Regions from separate parts of the Homo sapiens genome. Here region 2 is linked to region 1. The links come from fine-mapping of genetic effects on gene expression. A gene starts in region 1. The other region holds a variant in brackets. All regions are shown on one strand. Distances are between the middles of the regions. Region 1 holds the start of OLFM2 (olfactomedin 2). Region 2 overlaps OLFM2 (olfactomedin 2).

Region 1 (5,371 bases):
ACCTCTGCCTCCCAGGTTCAAGCAATTCGCCTGCCTCAGCCTCCTGAATAGCTGGGACTACAGGTGTGCAACACCACACCTGGCTAATTTTTTGCATTTTTAGTAGAGACGGGGTTTCACCATGTTGGCCGGGCTGGTCTCAAACTCCTGACCTCAAGTGATCCACTCACCCTGGCCTCCCAAAGTGCTGGGATTACAGGCGTGAGCCTCCATGCCCGACTGCTATCACTCTAATCTTTTTTTTTTTTTTTTTTTTTTGAGACAGAGTTTCACTCTTGTTGTCCAGGCTGGAGTGCAATGGCGATCGCAGCTCACCGCAACCTCTGCCTCCCAGGTTCAAGCAATTCTCCTGCCTCAGCCTCCCTAGTAGCTGGGATTACAGGCGCCTGCCACCACACCCAGCTAATTTTTTGTATTTTTAGTAGAGACAGGGTTTCACTATGTTGGCCAGGCTGGTCTCGAACTCCTGACCTCAGGCGATCCACTTGCCTCAACTTCCCAAAATGCTGGGATTACAGGCGTGAGCCACAGCACCCGGCTCCAGTCTAATCTTCTATACTTTATCTGTTATTCTTCATGCTACTTGCATTGTATTATATGTATATTTAGTTGCCGACACCGTATTACATGGTTATTCGGCTCTTTTCTGTCTCCTCTGCTAGGTCAACTCCAGGAGAGCAGGGATTTGATGACTCAGTTGGTGGCTGTATCCCCAGTGCATAATCATATCTGTTCATTGAATGGATTAACCAATGATTTCTAGGAAGGACCCCTGGGCCCATCAGGGACAGGGAAGAAGTCTTTGGAAAGTGATGGAGGGAGCGAAGAGTGGGTAGAGCATCCTCTCTGCAGACCCCTCCCTTCCCTGGGGTGCCAGGCTTGGTGGGCCAACGCCAAGGGGGTGTATGGGGCGCCGAGACTGTTTCACAACCATGTAGTTCCCGCGGTGGCCGCCTGGAGGCACTGCAGCCCGCGGCAGGATTCCACCAGCCCCGCCCTAACGGATTACCTCATTTGGCCACGCCCCCGTTGTCCTTTAGCCCCGCCTCCACTGACCTCGTTAGTCCCGCCCCCAAAGCAACTCCCTCCCAGCCCTGGGGGCTGTAGGAGTCACCCTCCAATTGCAATTCTGGCAGCAAACTCTGGCATCCTAGCCAATCTTGGTGAGAAGCCAGAAAATCTAGTGCCCCCCTAGCAGGGAGTGGAGGAGAAGCCACAGGGGGTGGTTCTCTGTCTCCTCTGCTAGGTCAAGGATAATTCAACTTGATTCCTGGCTCATTTTTTTTCCACTGGTTTCTCAAGTGTGTGCCTCTTTTGGTCTCTCGTCTCCCAGGTGTGTCTCTTGGCTTCTCTCAGGCTCACACATCCATTGAGTACCTATTGTGTGTGTCCTCATGCCTGGGGCTGGGCACACTCCCTATCCCACCCAGCGCGTGGGTGCTGAGATGCGTGGGGAAATGGAGGAGCGAGGGAGGGGACCCCACAATCTCTCCTCGTGGCCTGGAAATCCTTCTATCTGGAGTCTAACCTCCATTCCTCCCAACACCCCCCTCGGGGTGAGCACAAGGGTCTGATTCTTTTCTTGATAAGGGGAAGGTGCCCAAATTGTTTCTCCCCTGCCTATCTACCTAAAAGCCCACCTAGCAATGTCTTCACGGACGCTGTCCACACCCATGGAGCGGATTATTTAACAAGAGGGTAATCGTGTGGGCTCAGGAGCCGGACTGCCTCGGTTCAGTCCCACCTCTGTCACTCTCGAGCTTGAGCAAGTGATTTAACTTTTCTGCGCCTCAGTTTCCCCATCCATAAAATGAGGTAACAATACCATGCTCTAGTAGGGAGGAGGCAGAGGGGGTTAAATGCCTTAGTCTGTGCTGTGTGATTGAAACAGCACCTCTCAAATTAGCACGTAATGAATGATCACTGTTATCATAATGACTATTTTATTATTTTTGATCCCAGCTTCCCTGTGAACTCCTACAGATCTGAGAACTTGGGGGTGCTCTCACTCCCAAGATGGAGGAGGAGAGGGGCTTTCCAATAGCAAAAGAGAGCGTGGACGCCCCACATTTTGCAAGCCTCCCTGAGCCTGCCCAAGAGAAAGGTGCCATGGGGAGGGAGACCCGCTTCTGTAAGGGTATGAATGGCGTGTGCGGTTGTGAGCAAGGCACCAAGATACACACACACACGTGCATGGATGGACACGTTTGCACACACAGCGCTTGCACACACACACACCCTTTTAGAGTGATTTACCCAAAGGTACAGAATAGCACACGCTCACTCCAAGGCTCTCACACGGCCACACACCTGGCCACACACGTATTGTACAACACCCAGTCATCTGGAGCCAGTAATGAGGACACGGTCACACACAGACTCTGTCTCACGTACTGATCACACCCCAACTCGGGCACTAGTTGGACAAGCCCCCCAACCGCCACACACACAAACTCCCCCCGGTCACACCCAACCACGACACAAAGACACACACGTTTACCCTGCACCCCCACAGCATTTCACACGCGTCCCCGTCAGTCACTCTCACGTGAGTCCCGTCCCCTGCCCCACACTGGGGGCTGCAGGCGAGGAGTGGAGGGCTTCAGAAACTGGGCATCTCGGCCCCGAAGAGGAAGTCAAGGGTAAGCAACCGCCCCCCTCCAATGCCCCCTGAAGTTTCCCTCCCAACCCCATTCAGCTCCAGCGAGATGGCGGGGTGGGGGCTCGGGGCCATGGAGGGGTTGAGAACCCCAAAGACGCCACCCCCCAAACCAGCCCAGCTTGAGGCTGGATTTGAAGCCCCCCTCGTCCTCTCCCAAGCCAGAGAGTGCACGTCCCGGCCCCTCCCCCGCTGCGACCCCCGCCCCTCGCCGCCCTGCAGCTGGGGGGGCTTGTGGAGCCTCCCAACCCCGTTTCTCCGGGAACCCTCCGCGCCCCCCTCCTCTCCCGGAGCCACCCGCGCCCGCACCTGCCCGCCGGGCCCCTACCTGTCCGGCCAGGCCTGAGCACAGCAGCAGCAGCAGCGGCGGCGGGACCGTGAGCGGCCACATGACGCGCCCCTAGCCCGGCGTCCCGACCCCCGCCCGCCCTAGCGGCGCCTCGGCGCGGGGACCGCCACCAGGCGCGACCCCGCCCGCCCGGCCGGGGCGACCCTGCGCCGCCGCCTCCCCCGCCTCGCCGGCGGCCGGGATTCCGCCCCACCCCCGCCCCCTCGCTCGCTCCGAGTCTTTGTTGCGGGCTCCGCCCCCCGCCCCGCCCCCAGCTCCTCTTCGGGAGCAGCTCGAGCAGGGTCGGGTGGGGGGGTGGGGGCGGGGAAGTGGGGGAGCCAGCGCCGGCGAGGGGACCTGAGGACAGGACTTGGCAGCGCCCCCCAACCCCCAGGCCATTCCGGGAGCGGGTCGCGGAGGTGGGGGAGGGGTGCCCGTCACGTGTTTGTAAATTTCACCCTCCGGGGGCATTTCCCACGTTGCAGGTGGGACGGGGACGAATGGTTGGGGGAGAGGAATAGGAGGAAGGCCTGGTAGCAGAGAGGGGAAATGATGAACGCCCCCTCCCTAAAAACTCAAGAGTCAACAGGGAAACTGAGGCAGAATCTGAAATTGGAAGTTGGAGGAGGGGTCAATGCCAGGACAAGAGGGGTGAGGCATAGATGGAGACGGGGAATAAGAGGAAAAAATTGAGGTTGGGGGGACAGGAGACCGAGAATCAGGCAAGAGGCCAATGGAAATGGCCACGTGGGTGGGCTTGGCCTCAAAAAGGGGCGTCTCGTTTTCACTCTCCCCGGGCGCCCCATTTCCCCACCAGTCCTCCCGCTGGAAGCCTCCCCGCCTCCGCCACACCTGGAAGAGTTTCTCTTCGCTCCCTGTTTCAATAGCCCAAGATGAAAGACCACATCCCCCGAGAGAATCAAAATATTAACACCGCCTCCACGCGAAGCCATTTGCATATGAAGGGCGTCCTTGTCTAGCCTCACTTTCGGGAGGCTTTCCAGCCTTTCTCTGCCTCTCACTCCTCCAAAAGTCTCCCTAGGCCGGGCGCGGTGGCTCACGCCTGTAATTCCAGCAATTTGGGAGGCTGAGGAGGGTGGATCATCTGAGGTCAGGAGTTCAAGACCAGCCTGGCCAACATGGCAAAACCCCACCTCTACTAAAACATACAAAAATTAGCCGGGCGTGGTGGTGCATGCCTGGAATCCCAGCTACTCGGGAGGCTGAGACAGGAGAATCGCTTGAACCCGGGAGGCAGAGGTTGCAGTGAGCAGAGATCGTGCCATTGCACTCCAGCCTGGGCAACAGGAGCAAACCTTGTCTCAAAAAAAAAAAAAAAAAAAAAGTGTCCCTAGTCGTCTTTCCTCCCCACAGCCCCTCTAGGGATTCGGATATATGTAGGCAGAGGTGGAGGAGGGGGGCGGGCAAATAAGTCAGATTGGAAAGAAATCGGGCATAAAATATGCGAGGCCAGGAAGCCTGGCATTTTTGTGACCCTGATACTGTTGGGCTAGGAGGGGTCTCCCCAGACGCTGGTGGGGCCTCGACCCCAGCTGGTGTCCAGGCTCTTAACACCATCGCAAGAATGAATTCAAGGAGGAATCAGAAAATCATGAAAAGTTCGGAGATTTTTTTGTTAAGGGAAAAGTCCACACTTGAGAAAAGGGAGTGGGCGTACTTAAGAGAGAGAGATGGGCAAGGTGGTTTGGGACTGCTACCTTTATGTGTCTCTTTTTTTTTTTTTTTTTTTTTTTTTTTGAGACAAAGTCTCGCTCTGTCACCCAGGCTGGAGTGCAGTGGTGTGATCTCGGCTCACTGCAACCTCTGCCTCCCAGGTTCAAGCAATTCTCCTGCCTCAGCCTCCTGAGTAGCTGGGATTACAGGTGTGCGCCATCACAGCCGGCTAATTTTTTGTGTTTTTAGTAGAGACAGGGTTTCACCATATTGGCCAGCCTGGTCTCAAACTCCTGACCTCGTGATCCACCCGCCTTGGCCTCCCAAAGTGCTGAGATTACAGGCGTGAGCCACCACAACAGGCCACTGTGTATCTCTTTAACCAAGGGATGGAATATTCATGAAAACTGGAAAAAGGTGGACTGTGGTGCCACCCACTTTTACACCAAATTTGGGTGTCCCTGGAATTGTCAAGGGCGCTGGTGGGTGGGTAATTTTAGTATTTTAATGAGTACATAATGAGATCCTAGGTGAAACCTAGGTAGAATGTAACGCCATGTTGGGTCCAGTAGGTCTTAGCCAGCTTGGTCCACACCCTGGTTTTCAGGATCTTATCAGCCCATAGCCTCTAGTCATGTGAAACGGCTGCCTGTGACCACCCTGGATCATTCCTGTCTCAACCCTACTGGGGATAAAACATGTCGATGATG
Region 2 (5,371 bases), 82 kb before region 1:
CCCCCTCACCCCCTCCTGTCTAGAACCAGGGCATAAATCCCAGGCCTTTAGGATGGTGACAGTGTAGTCTTCCCTAGTGCCACTTACAGGCACCTCCCAGGCCAGACCCGCCCCAGGGGGTCAGTCTCTACGTGCCCCTGGCTTCTGTGGCCGCTGGGCAGAGCTGGAGCAGGTCACCTTGGGGTAAACGGTATTACTGCCCCAGGACAGGAGTTGGCTTCGCTGTGCCCACGTCCATGATGAGAGGGGAAGTCAGTGAGTTAGCAGTGGATAGCCGAAGACGCACACAGATTGATCCTGGCCTGGGAAATGTTAGTCTGCCTGCCCATCCTTGTTTGTAACAAAAGCCACAAACTCAAAAGGAGCTCTGAGCGTGTGTGTGTGTGTGTGTGTGTGTGTGTGTGTGTGTGTGATCTCTCTGAGGACCTGATACAGATGTGATGGACACACCCACACCCAGCCCTAATCTCGGTGTGAGGATGTGGCTCCCCAGCACTCAGCATAGTGTGGACACAGATTGTGGACCTCAGCAGCCTCAATTCTCCACCTTACTTTAGGAGAATCCAGTATCTAAGGCCGATAAACTACCTCGTCCCCTCACTGTGGAGACTCTCTGCCTCCAAATAAATGTGAGTTGGGGGGGATACAGATGTTCTAGGTGTCCTGGCTTTGTGCTGCTTTTCATTTCTTCAGCAGGTACAGGGTAAAGTGCCTCTCCACATGCTAATCCGGGAATTAATCCTTTTTCCGATGTCAAACATATTCGCTTAAATGGAAATTAATTGCTTTTCTTGAGGATTTCTCTAAAAATTGGTTTTAAATGAGTACATTAGGCAGTCCCATTTATTATTCGTTGGTTTCGTTCCCAATATGGCCCCGGTATCCGAGTTCCCGGAGATGCCAGCACGGAGCGGAGATGATTTAATCAGGGTAACCATTAATTAGAGATGAGGAGAGCCTCCCCCAGGAGGAGTGGGAGTGCCCCCTTTGTGGCCTCAGCAGGGTGGCGGTCTGGGCCAATAGGGCTCTTTAAATGATTGTTTCTGCTCTGGATTCAATAGGGACCAACCACTGGGGTCAACATGGGGCAGGATCACCTGGGCAGCACCCCCTACCTTCATTCTTGGTCCCTCAGCCCCAAGGGTGACGCTCCTCACCTTTCTTGTACCCCTTCCAACTAGCCTGGCTGCACCCCTTAGGTCTGCCTCATGCAGGCCTTCAGACAGGCCTGGCTCGTATAAAGCCCTCATCTGGTTCTTCCCCTTCTGTGACTTCCCTTCCCCTGCCTTTAGCCAGATCTCTAAGGCTGCTGAGGACTTAGCGTCTCCTTTTTTATTTTTTAGATTGAGACAAGGTCTCACTCTGTGGCCCAGGCTGCAATGCAGTGGCACTCATGGTTCATGGCAGCCTCGAACTCTTGGGTTCAAGAGATCCTCCCACCTCAGCCTCCCGAGTAGCTGGGACTATAGGCGCACGCCACCATGCCTGGCTAATTTTGTAAAATTTTTTTAGAGACGAGGTCTTGCTATGTTGCCCAGGCTGGTCTTGAACTCCTGGGCTCAAGCAGTCCTTCCCCCTCAGTCTCCCAAAGTGCTGAGATTACAGGCATGAGCTGCTGCATCCAGCCTACTCCTAGTTCAGTCCCTTCCTGTCTCCCTCATACTCTTCTTTCCTGCCTCCAAAACTTCTTGTCTTTTCCTCTCCTTCCCCTCCAAGAATTCTGGTCCCCCATCAAGGGCTGTCCCTGCCCAATCCCTCCTGCAGGCAAACAGGCTCCAGGTGTGAGGTATGAGTGTGTTCAATTGAAGGCACCTGAGTGCCCCTTTAAAAGGCTGTTTCTAGCTTTTTTGGGATTAGTTTACTCGGCACAAATGTGACTTGTCTAAAAACGATTTTTGAAATTACAAAGCAACAAGAGAAAAAAGAAAATGGAAAAATTCAGCTGGGCCCTACTCTTTCATACTCAGCTTCTTAAAAGCCAGCTCGATTGTTAAAAACCCATTAAAAAATTGCCAGACTGGCCGGGCTCAGTGGCTCACGCCTGTAATCCCAGCAGTTTGGAAGGCCGAGGGGAGCGGATCACTTGAGCCCAGGAGTTCAAGACCACCCTGGACAACATGGCAAAACCCCCATCTCTACTAAAAACACAAAAATTAGCCTGGCATGGTGGTGCGTGCCTGTAATCCCAGCTACTCGGAAGGCTCAGGCACGCGAATCGTGTGAACCTGGGAGGTGGAGGTTGCAGTGAGCTGAGATCATGCCACTGCACTCCAGCGTGGGTGACAGAGCAAGACTGTCTCAAAAAAAAAAAAAAGAAAAAAAAAATTCCAGACCTCTTAGTAATGCATCAACAGTGATTGCAGAGTGGCAATCCAGTGACGGGAGAATACTCATTTGAGGCCAGTTTTCATTGCTGTGCTAGAATTCTCGGTTGTTTTGATCAAACTGCTTTTAAACGAATTGCTTTCGATCAAAACAACTTTGGATTGGGTCTCCTCACCCATCTCCCCAAAGGGCTGGCCCTGGGGAACCCCTTCCCCCCAGTTCGCTTAAGCTTGAGTCATGGAATAAGGGGATCCTCACTGGAGATGGGTCTCCAGGCTTGGACTTCGGGGCCACCTCCACCTCTGTCGCCATTG[G/T]ACACACACAGTCACCGAAGCGTCAAATGTCAAAGGTCCTGTTTATTCCGGCAAACCGGAAAGAAAAAGTGTAAATAAAAAAAGAAACAGATCCATGCACTCAACTCCTGGGGGTGGGGGTGGGGGTGGGAGTGAGGGATGAGGAATGGGTGGGAAGCAAGGAGGGAGGGGTGGAAGGACAGAGAGAGAGAGACAGAGAGAGGCAGAGACGGAAAGAACTGGAGAACCAGAGCCATAAAAAGAAAAAGACATCCATAAAAAGGCAGAAAGAAAGAAGTGGTGTATTAAAAGCAGAGATCAATAAAGGAGAAGAGGGGAAATTGAAAAAATAGACAGAAATACATAGGCAGAGAACAAAAGCCCAGCAAAAAGGCGGGGAGAAAGGGCGTGACAGAGACAGAGAGATCACCCTTGAGGGACACAGGCAGAATGAAAAGGGCCCCCAGCCCCCAGAGGCCCCCCAGGCAGCAGCCCGAGCCACAGCATTGGCTCAGGGGTCCCCAGAGGTGCTGATGACGTGAAACAGGGTGACATTGTAGAGCACCTGGTGGCCGTTGTTCCAGGTATAGAGGGCGCGCTCCCGGGGGTTGTAATCCAGCATCGAGATGTGGGAATACTGGTTGTGGAAGGGCACGTCCGTGTACTCGTAACTGGACGTGTTGGTAAAATAGGCGAAGTAGACCTTGGCCCCAGCCAGGTGGGAGTTGGTCACGTAGAGCACACCGCAGATCATGAAGGCCTCGCCAGCGCTGCGCTTGGGGTAGCCGGTGTCCCAGGACCGCATGACCTCGAGGGTGTGCGGGTCCAGCCGGCTGACCACGATGTTGCCCGCGTTCTGGTTGGTGGTGTACACAGCCCAGAGCCCGCTCTCGTCCACCATGAAGTCCATGTCGGAGAAGCCGCCCCAGGAGTAGGGGAAGGTGTTGTTGTAACCGGCGCCCGGGAGGCTCCTCTGCACCAGCACAGAGCGCGAGCGGAAGTGGTATTTGACCACCACGTTGCTCTGGTACTTGTTATAGAACAGGGAGCCGTTGTACACCACGTGGCCCGTGCCCGCCCACGGCTGGGGCAGCAGGTGCTGGATAAAGTTCTGGCCTTTGATGAAGTCTCCCAGGGTACGGAACTCCAGGACCCGGCGGCCTTTGTAATAGCCATCCATGTACCAGACCTATGGTAGCAGCCGCTGGTCACTGGGGGGAACCACCACCAACGACCCAAGGGTCCCAGCACCAGCTACAGCCATTAGAGTTCAACAGTCACTAAGTGGTCATTAGTCATGGGAACTCTGTTGACCATTCATTACCAATTATGGCCCTAGTGTGACCATGATCATCTCCTGGTGACAGCATTAACCATGGGCAGTGAATTCAAGTGACGTCTTATCACTCAATGGCTGTCCAGTGACCACTAACCACCCAATATCCAATGACCAGGGAATTCCTGGGCCCAGTGAGTCCCCAGGGGCTGCAGTTTCTTGGGGAACTGCATGGCCCCAGTAGGACCCAAATCCCAGTGAGTGCTATTGGTCTTTTTTTTTTTTAAGTAATTTTTTTTTTTTTTTTTGAGATGGAGTCCCTCTCTGTTGCCCAGGCTGGAGTACAGTGGCGTGATCTCAGCTCACTGCAACCTCCGCCTCCCAGGTTCAAGTGATTCTCCTGCCTCAGCCTCCTGAGTAGCTGGGATTACAGGCGCATCCCACCACACCCGGCTAATTTTTGTATTTTTAGTAGAGATGGGGTTTCACCATGTTGGTCAGGCTGGTCTCAAACTCCCGACCTTGTGATCCACTGTCTCAGCCTCCCAAAGTGCTGGGATTACAGGCATGAGCCACCACGCCTGGCCTTTTTTTTTCTTTTGAAACAAAGTCTCACTGTTTTTCCCAGGCTGGCGGGCAGTGGCACAATCACGGCTCACTGCAGCCTCGACCTCCCAGGCTCAAGCAATCCTCTCACCTCAGCCCCCCGGAATAGCAGGGACTACAGGCACAAGTCACCACGCCCAGCTTATTTATTGTATCTTTAGTAGAGACAAGGTCTCGCAATGTTGCCCAGGCTAGTCTCAAACTCCTGAGCTCAAGTGATCTGCCTGCCTCGGCCTCCTAAAGTGCTGGGATTACAGGCGTGAGCCACTGCACCTGGCCACTATTGATCTTAAAACAGACCCTAAGTGGACAATGCTCCATCCCAAAGGACCCAGGGAACTGCAGCCCCTGGGGAGTCACTGGGCCCAGGAATTCCCTGGTCATTGAATATTGGGTGGTTAGTGGTCACTGGACAGCCATTGAATGATAAGACATCACTTGAATTCACTGCCATGGTTAACTAACCCCTGTCACCATGAGGTGACCAGGCGTGTCATCAACATCATTGTTGTCATCATGTTAACTAGCATTTGTTGTTGTTTTTGTTTTGTTTTGTTTTGAGACAGAGTTTCACTCGTGTTGCCCAGGCTGCAGTGCAATGGTGCGATCTTGGCTCACTGCAACCTCTGCCTCCAGGGTTCAAGTGATTCTCCTGCCTCAGCCTCCCGAGTAGCTGGGATTACAGGCATGCACCACCATGTCCGGCTAATTTTGTATTTTTAGTAGAGACAGGGTTTCTCCATGTTGGTCAGGCTGGTCTCGAACTCCCGACCTCAGGTGATCCGCCCACCTCAGCCTCCCAAAGTGCTGGGATTACAGGCATGAGCCACCATGCCCAGCCTCATGGATGGTTCTTGTGTGTCTAAGTGAT

The links.
Region 2: its variant is fine-mapped to the expression of OLFM2 in whole blood (TOPMed, PIP above 0.99).

Annotation. Positions count from the first base shown.
Region 1 is chr19:9,933,317-9,938,687 of GRCh38, forward strand. OLFM2 (olfactomedin 2) reads right to left here and starts at 3,199. Exons shown (of 6, transcript NM_058164.4): 1 at 2,988-3,199. The coding sequence starts at 3,050. RefSeq lists enhancers at 2,455-3,049, 3,716-4,218.
Region 2 is chr19:9,851,057-9,856,427 of GRCh38, forward strand. It overlaps OLFM2 (olfactomedin 2), which reads right to left. Exons shown (of 6, transcript NM_058164.4): 6 at 2,662-3,807. The coding sequence ends at 3,130. Among named protein-coding and RNA genes, the nearest start is that of PIN1, 18 kb to the left of the region's middle. The variant G/T (reference allele first, on the strand shown) is at 2,640.